Linked DNA regions of Homo sapiens. The protein of the gene in region 2 interacts with the protein of the main gene of each other region in a pairwise test. Each region holds a gene or a part of one and is shown on either strand. Other genes may lie near its edges.

Evidence for each region.
Region 1: the proteins of NALCN (region 2) and CHRM3 interact in binary tests that used the Homo sapiens proteins (3 or more experiments, as listed by UniProt).

The regions. Positions count from the first base shown.
Region 1 is NC_000001.11:239,907,568-239,911,492, reverse strand, and holds part of CHRM3 (muscarinic acetylcholine receptor M3), read right to left. Parts: coding exon 2,269-3,925; 3' UTR 1-2,268.
Region 2 is NC_000013.11:101,053,114-101,056,671, forward strand, and holds the end of NALCN (sodium leak channel NALCN), read right to left. Parts: intron 2,376-3,558; coding exon 2,182-2,375; 3' UTR 663-2,181; downstream 1-662. UniProt on the Homo sapiens protein: Voltage-gated ion channel responsible for the resting Na(+) permeability that controls neuronal excitability. NALCN channel functions as a multi-protein complex, which consists at least of NALCN, NALF1, UNC79 and UNC80.

The DNA.
Region 1 (3,925 bases), on a different chromosome or scaffold from region 2:
GGGAAGTGCTGAAGTACTGGGACACTTGAATAAGCTTTCACATATTTATTAGTGCCAGGCCAACTTGAGAAATAAAATATAGATGCAATTGCTTACTAGATGTTTCACAGGTGGATAATATGACATTCTGTAGTTTGCTGTGTACATATTAGAAAATCGTCTGTTTCTTTCTTGTTCTTTGGTTGAATGTGGGCCCAAAAAAATCATTCTTACAATTATGCTGATTGTTTTTTTTTTTCCCTGTGTAAAATGATTTCAGACACAATGGTGGAGCTTTGTTCAGTTCCCATCAGATTTAACTAAAGAGTGGTTTTAAACATTTACGTTGAAGTGACCGTTGACTTTTTATTACCTAGAAAGAGTTAGGTGCTTGGTGATGCCAACAGGATGACATGTTTCTTCTTCTTAGCCACAGGAAAGCTCCAATATACTCTATTCATTGCTCAAGTGGACCTTAAAGAATCACTTTGAAAGGACACCATGGCTGACGACTGAAGAGTCATATTTATCAACATTAAATAAACACTTGGTGTAGTATCCATAAATATTTCTGCATATAAACATAACACGAAATTAAATAGTTCAGATACACAGACACCACTGAGTACACTTCTACTGTTGTCAAAGTCGTCTGTAAACACCACCTCACACTGAATACAAAAGCAGCTTCTACCCAGCTCTGGGTTCACAACACGAATGCCCTGTACAAAGGGAAGATATCTCCGCGGCCCTCCCACCTCCCTCCCCTCCCTCTCCCCAAACAGCCCCGGCAACAGGAAAAGAAACCCCAACAGCTACAGCAGCAACAACAACGACAATGATGGCAGCACCCCATCCCCTCCCCAAATGAAACAGTTAACATTTTGGTCAATTCAAGGGAGAATGCAAAAAAACAATTTTTTTTTTTTCCCAAAAGGTAAGGAAATCAATTTGAAGCATTACTTTTCAGAGTGTAATTCTTTCTTCAGAGGACATGTAACTTCCTAAAACCTCACCTATTCCTGGGTGAAGGTTACACAATGAACACCAGAAAGCACTGGCCACAGCTGATTAACAAAGGTGCAAGCCCTATTTTCTTTGAGAAGGTGCCATTCAGCAAGAATCAAACACAATGTTCTCCTTCATTCTCTCTTACCATGTTTTTTTTTTTGCTTTGCCATATATATATATATACACATATATATATATTGCTGTGTATGACATTCAAACGTGACACTATTATTGAGTTTCAAGCAGTTTAGATAGCAGAAATTTTGTTCTGAAACATTCAGATTTAGATGATTAAATTCAAACGTGTGGATGTGGTTCATTCTTTGAGCTCAGAGGGGCCCCGATTTAGCTCTGTTGAGACATCAACAAAGGAGGTTGCTTAACACCAAGTCTGGCGAAGCCACGGCGCTCAGCTGACTCACGAGCCTGTCCGCTCTGCACAGACCTGCTGGGAAGGCCTGGCTGCTCTCTGTGGAAAACAGCCCTGGTTTCAAAAACATTACACTGGGCTTATTTCACGTTAATGTTGCATTAGGATCCTAGAGAACTTCAGTTACCAAAGTACTGAAAGCGTATGTTGCAGGAATAATTTGCCAGTTCAGTGTTTCCCATGATATTATATACACTATGTGTGTGCGTGCAGAACTCACACATATATATATACTTAAGTATTTTTATTTGTACGAAACTTGAACTGCACAAAACAGTACTTTGCAAGAATCAAGAATCAAGTCCACAAATAGAGTTTAACAACACACCAAAGAAAAGACAGGAAGCTCTATTGGGACAAGAAGATTCAGCTTTGCAACGTATGAAATAATTTTGGAACCACAGATTCGTAAGCCTGCAGTGTTCCACTTGGGGTCTGGATTCCCACTTTTGGGATCCTTGGGAAGAATGTGGGAACTGGGTCAGCTATGCTCATCTGAGATTCCAAAGCTAATGGGAATTAAAGGACCCAGGCAAATCACTTTGGGTATATAATTGCCGTCAAGCAATATTTTTCTCCTCTTTAAGAAAAAAACACGTAAAGTCTATTTCAGAATAAATTTCTTTATATTCAGTAGTATGTTTTTTTTTTCTTTTTGCTGAATTGGTATTGACTTTTTCTATTAAAATGGGTTTATTCAATGGATCAGTAAACAGGCAGCTTCTTTCACATCTGGGTGATAAAACCATTTTTATCATCACCAGAAGTCACCCCGCCCTCGCCTTCCTCCTCCTAAGGTCTGTGGGTTGATGTGTGCGTTTTGTCACTGCTATTGATACAACCTCATTCTACAAGGCCTGCTCGGGTGCGCGCTTGTGAAAAATGACCGACTGTCTCTGCTGGTACTGCTGCTTGCGCCTCTTTTTTTTGTCACACTGGCACAGCAGCAGCATCTTGAAAGTGGTTCTGAATGTTTTGTTGCACAGAGCATAGCACACGGGGTTCACGGTGCTGTTGATGTAGCACAGCCAGTAGCCCAGATTCCAAAAGGTTTTGGGTATGCAGCTGTCACAAAAGGTGTTCACCAGAACCATGATGTTGTATGGGGTCCAAGTGATGATGAAGGCAAGCAAGATCGCACTGAGGGTCTGGGCCGCTTTCTTCTCCTTGACCAGGGACATCCTTTTCCGCTTAGTGATCTGACTTCTGGTCTTCAGAGCAAACCTCTTGGCCAGAGTGGCTTCCTTGAAGGACAGAGGTAGAGTGGCCGTGCTCTTACCCACTGAGGAGTTGACGTCAGAAGTCTTAGCTGTGTCCACGGCTGACTCTAGCTGGATGGGAAGCTTGGAGAAGCTTTTTGGAAAACTGCCTCCATCGTCCACGCTCTTCTGGGCCTGCAGCTTGTCGGCTTTCCTCTCCAAGTCCACCATCCCCAGCTCCTCCTCAGGCACCTGCAGGTTGTCCGATGAGGGTAACTTGGTGGAGTTGAGGATGGTGCTGTGACCCGGAAGCTTGAGCACGATGGAGTAGATGGCTCTCGTCTCGGAGCCAATGTCCTCCTCGTCGGAGGAGGCGGAGTTCTCCAGGGAGGCAGCAGCATCATTGTTGTTCCAACTGTCACTGCTGCTGTGGTCTTGGTCCATCTGCTCGGAGCTGGGTTTCCAGCTCTTGGTTGTGAACCAGAAGTGGCAGCGGCCATACTTCCTCCTGTTGGAGCGTTTCATGCTTTGCTGTTGAAGTTCGTAACTGCTGCAGCTTCGAGAACTGCCCGTGGGGTGGACAAAGTTTTCTGTCTCTGCCTCTGTCCCAGAGGCTTGCAGGCCAGCAAGCTCTTTGGTACGCTTTTCAGTTTCCTTATAGATCCTCCAGTATAAAATAGTCATAATGGTGACAGGCATATAAAAAGCAGCGATGGCTGTGCCAAAAGTAATGGTGGGCTCACTGAGGAACTGAATGAAGCACTCTCCCGGAGGCACAGTTCTCTTTCCAACAAAGTATTGCCAGAACAAGATGGCAGGAGCCCAAAGGACAAAGGAGATGACCCAAGCCAGACCGATCATCACACCGGCTCTCTTTGTTGTTCGTTTGGCTCGGTACGTGAGCGGCCTCGTGATGGAAAAGTATCTGTCAAAGCTGATGACCAGAAGATTCATAACAGAGGCATTGCTGGCTACGTAGTCAATGGCAAGCCAGAGGTCACAGGCCAAGTTCCCTAAGGCCCATCGATTCATGATGATGTAGGTCGTAAACAGATTCATTGAAATGACCCCGATAATCAGATCGGCACAGGCCAGGCTTAAGAGGAAGTAGTTGTTGACCGTCTTCAGCTGCTTGTTGACCTTAAATGACACAATTACCAGGATGTTGCCGATGATGGTCACCAAGGCCAGGATGCCCGTTAAGAAAGCGATGAAGACCACTTGCCAGACGGTATGACCTCCCAGAGGGTCATCGGTGGTACCGTCTGGAGAGGAGAAATTGCCAGCTGCTCGAGAAACATTGTAG
Region 2 (3,558 bases):
TAGTATCAGTGTCTGGCTTCCCTAAGGACCAGGGAACACTGTGACCCAAGTTTTCCCATCTGTGTAATGGGATTTTTCATATGTTTACATATCTAGGGGTAAAATCTAAATGGGGGTGGTGCTTAATTTCTCTGGCTTGCATATGCTCTACCTGTTTCAGGAAAATCGTAGAGAGGAGTCCTACAGGAAGTGTGTGACTGTTTCGCTTCATTGAAAATATAGGGTGCTATGGCTTTAAATACATTGGTATTCTGCCCCTGGCTTCACTGCAGAATGAACAACAATGATGTTCTGCTGAACATCAATTCCAGACGTTTTAGAAAGGGCTCAGCAGTTTCGTGAGAATGAAGCTGTATTACTCAAGTGTAATGAGCCAAAAACATCTTGTTTTTATGCAGCACTAGTACAGACCCATGCCCTGGACCTGTAAGTGCCTTTTCTGTTCATTGTAGGCTTAGAGGGCACAGGGTATTCACTCAGCCTTATCAGCACAAGTGTGAAAGGAACATTCTGGCTCAGAGAATTGAGTTGAAATGAGTATCAGGGACACAGCTTTTGCCAACTAATTATGGACTGAATATTCAATCCAGGTTTGCAATGTGCTGCTACCGAGTGCCTGCCCCACCAAGAAAAGGGTTTAAAAATGGTCAACTCAGAGTAAATTATTTTACAAATCCAATATTTATTTTATCTTGTATGTACAAAAAGTAAACTCCAAGTGAACATCAAATCAAATCTAATCCTTTTGGCCACATGACTGGTTGTTCTTTATCTCATAGTTACAATGAATCATATAAACTGTAGACTGCCACTACCACGATACTTCTGTGACACAGAAGGAATGTCCTATTTGCCTATCTATCTGAGGAATGTTAAATAGAGAAAAATAGATTATAAAACAACCTGGAGGTCACAGGATTCTGAGATAATCCCTCTGTTAAAAAACATCTGAACAGCAAATGTCCAATCTGTAATAAAATAGTTAAAGGTCCAAGTCAAGTCCACTTCTACTTGGCTGGCCCAGCACAAGAAATCTAACAGCACTTTGTAATCATTTTGCTTTTCTAATTTTCCCGGAGGACATGGGCCATTGACATATAAGGAAAAAAAACAAAAACAAAAAACGATTAAGTAAGTTGTGTGATCCCTAACCTGTGAGTTCAAAGGAAGATTTTGCAGGGCACCATTATTTCCATAGAAGATTCTTTTAACAGAGATGTCATTTCAAATCTAACGTAGCAATGGTGTGTTAGGATCACCCAGAATGAAATGACTCTGCTGATTTATGGCAAAACAGACATACCTTGGGTAAGAAATGAAGCCAATGATAACATCACACATGCAAAGATTTTTTTAAATAAATTGAGCTATATAGTTTTATTCTTTTTGCTAAACTCAGTTATTAAAAGGTTTCTTAAGAAACTTAACATCTTTGCGCAACTATGTCACTCAAGTGATTTATCTACAGGTTTGTTTTAAACCGCTAAGCATCCTGAGTCCATTTCTTTGCCTGGTGCTTGCACACACAATTTTCTTAGAAGGAGGCAACAGTTTCATTAACATAACTGAGGACAGAAATCAACTTGTTCTGGTCACCAAATGTCTTGTGTATATTTAAAAATATAACACGAGAAAAAGAAGATACTTTTTAAAATTCAGAATCTGTAGTTTGTAAAACTACTATCATTTTAGCATAAGTTCAGTGCTGACCTTTTCAGATCAATCATAAATAATAAATTCTCTCAAGAGAAATATTTCTAGTGGAAATGGGAAAGATGTGAACTAAAGCTATAACCCCTGTACCCTAAATATCAGCCACTTTGGGCTTAGCACTCTTTTGCGGGGCGGTGATAATACTGCATTAGAGCACATATGAATATATACCTTAGTTTACGCAGACAGAATATATGACATTTTTAAGTGATATACATTTGCTTGCGGTATCATTTCTAATATTATCAGTACTGTCATTATACAAAAATTTTTTTGAGCAATGATTGATAGTAACCCATCATACATGCAGCTTATGCCTTTCTGTGGCAGGATGAAAATCAATTTATAAACATCTTGTGACAAGCTGGAATTCAGTTATAGATCAATTACAGATTGCTCACTGGACAATCAAGGACATTATTAGAAAACGGTTTCCACCACTAGAAATTCATCTACATTGACATCCACCTAAATATCCAGAAGGTCATCCCCACTTTCGTCGCTCTCCACAGTCAGCTGCCGGGTCCACCACTTCTTAACTTCAGAACCGCAGGAAGCCGCGTCAGTCATGGGGTTCATTTTGCACACGACAGATTTCATGGTTGTCCTTCCTCCAAACCGTAAGTTGACTGAGGACACTGAATGGCTTATTGGTTTTGGGGCTGTGGAATTAATGAGTCCTATGAGCCACTTGGTATTGCTTCACCCTATTGTAATCACTCCTAAAAACCCATGATATTCCCATCAGTGATACTTTTGGCTAACGTGTCCTAGCCACAGATGCTAAGTAAACATCCTTTTCAGGACTTGATTCTTTATGTTCACGATAGATTTTTTTTTTAATTGTGCTCATGGACAACTAATGATGTCATTTGGGAAAAAAACGTGCTGCTCACCCCTTTCATTTTGAAATAATTAAAAAAACTAGAAAATCACTAAAAAAATTCCAATTCGGGAACTATTAAGTGTCACAGAAACCTGTGCATTCATTAGCATATGCAATAAAAAAAACAAAAAGGAAGGAGAGTGTGACCCACAGTAAAGGCGAGGGGGGATGCAGTGAGGGTATGGGAGGAAAGGTGTGGTTCTGGGGCCTCACAGTCATGGTGTTGGGACCCACCTCTGCAACCTGTGGATATGTAGCTATGGGCAACTTCACGTCTCTGAACCCAAGTTTCCTCCATTGTAAGATGAAGACAATGAAAATGTCCTAATTAGACTATTGTCAGGATTAAAACAGGTTACATGAGATGACTTAGGAAAGTGCATAGCATGACACCTGTGACATTGTTGCTGCCCCCTCAAAATACTATTTTTCTTCTCCTCTGCCTCCTCAAACTCAGCCTGACCCCAAGAGCATGTCTATTTCACGATCACCGTTTTTGGTGGGGACCACCTAGGCATGGACCAGTGGAAGTACTTTTTTTTTTTTTTTTTTTTTTTTTTTTTTGGGAGACAGGTTCTCACTCTCTCACCCAGACAGGAGTGCAGCGGCACAATCTTGGTTCACCACAACCTCTGCTTCCCAGGCTCAAGTGATTCTCCTGCCTCAGCCTCCCAAGCAGCTGGGATTACAGGTGCACACCACTACCGGTCAGCTAATTTTTGTATTTTTAGTAGAGACAGGGTTTCACCATGTTGACCAGGCTGGTCTTGAACTCCAGGCCTCAAATGATCCACCTGCCTCGGCCTCCCAAAGTGCTGGGATTACAGGGGTGAGCCACTGCGCCTGGCCCAATGGAAGTACTTTTGACAGCATCATTTCTTTTGTCCATTTAAATGAATACCAAGGACTGTGCATTCTCCCCAGGTCACCTCTCCTATCTGTCCCTGCAGTATCTGGCC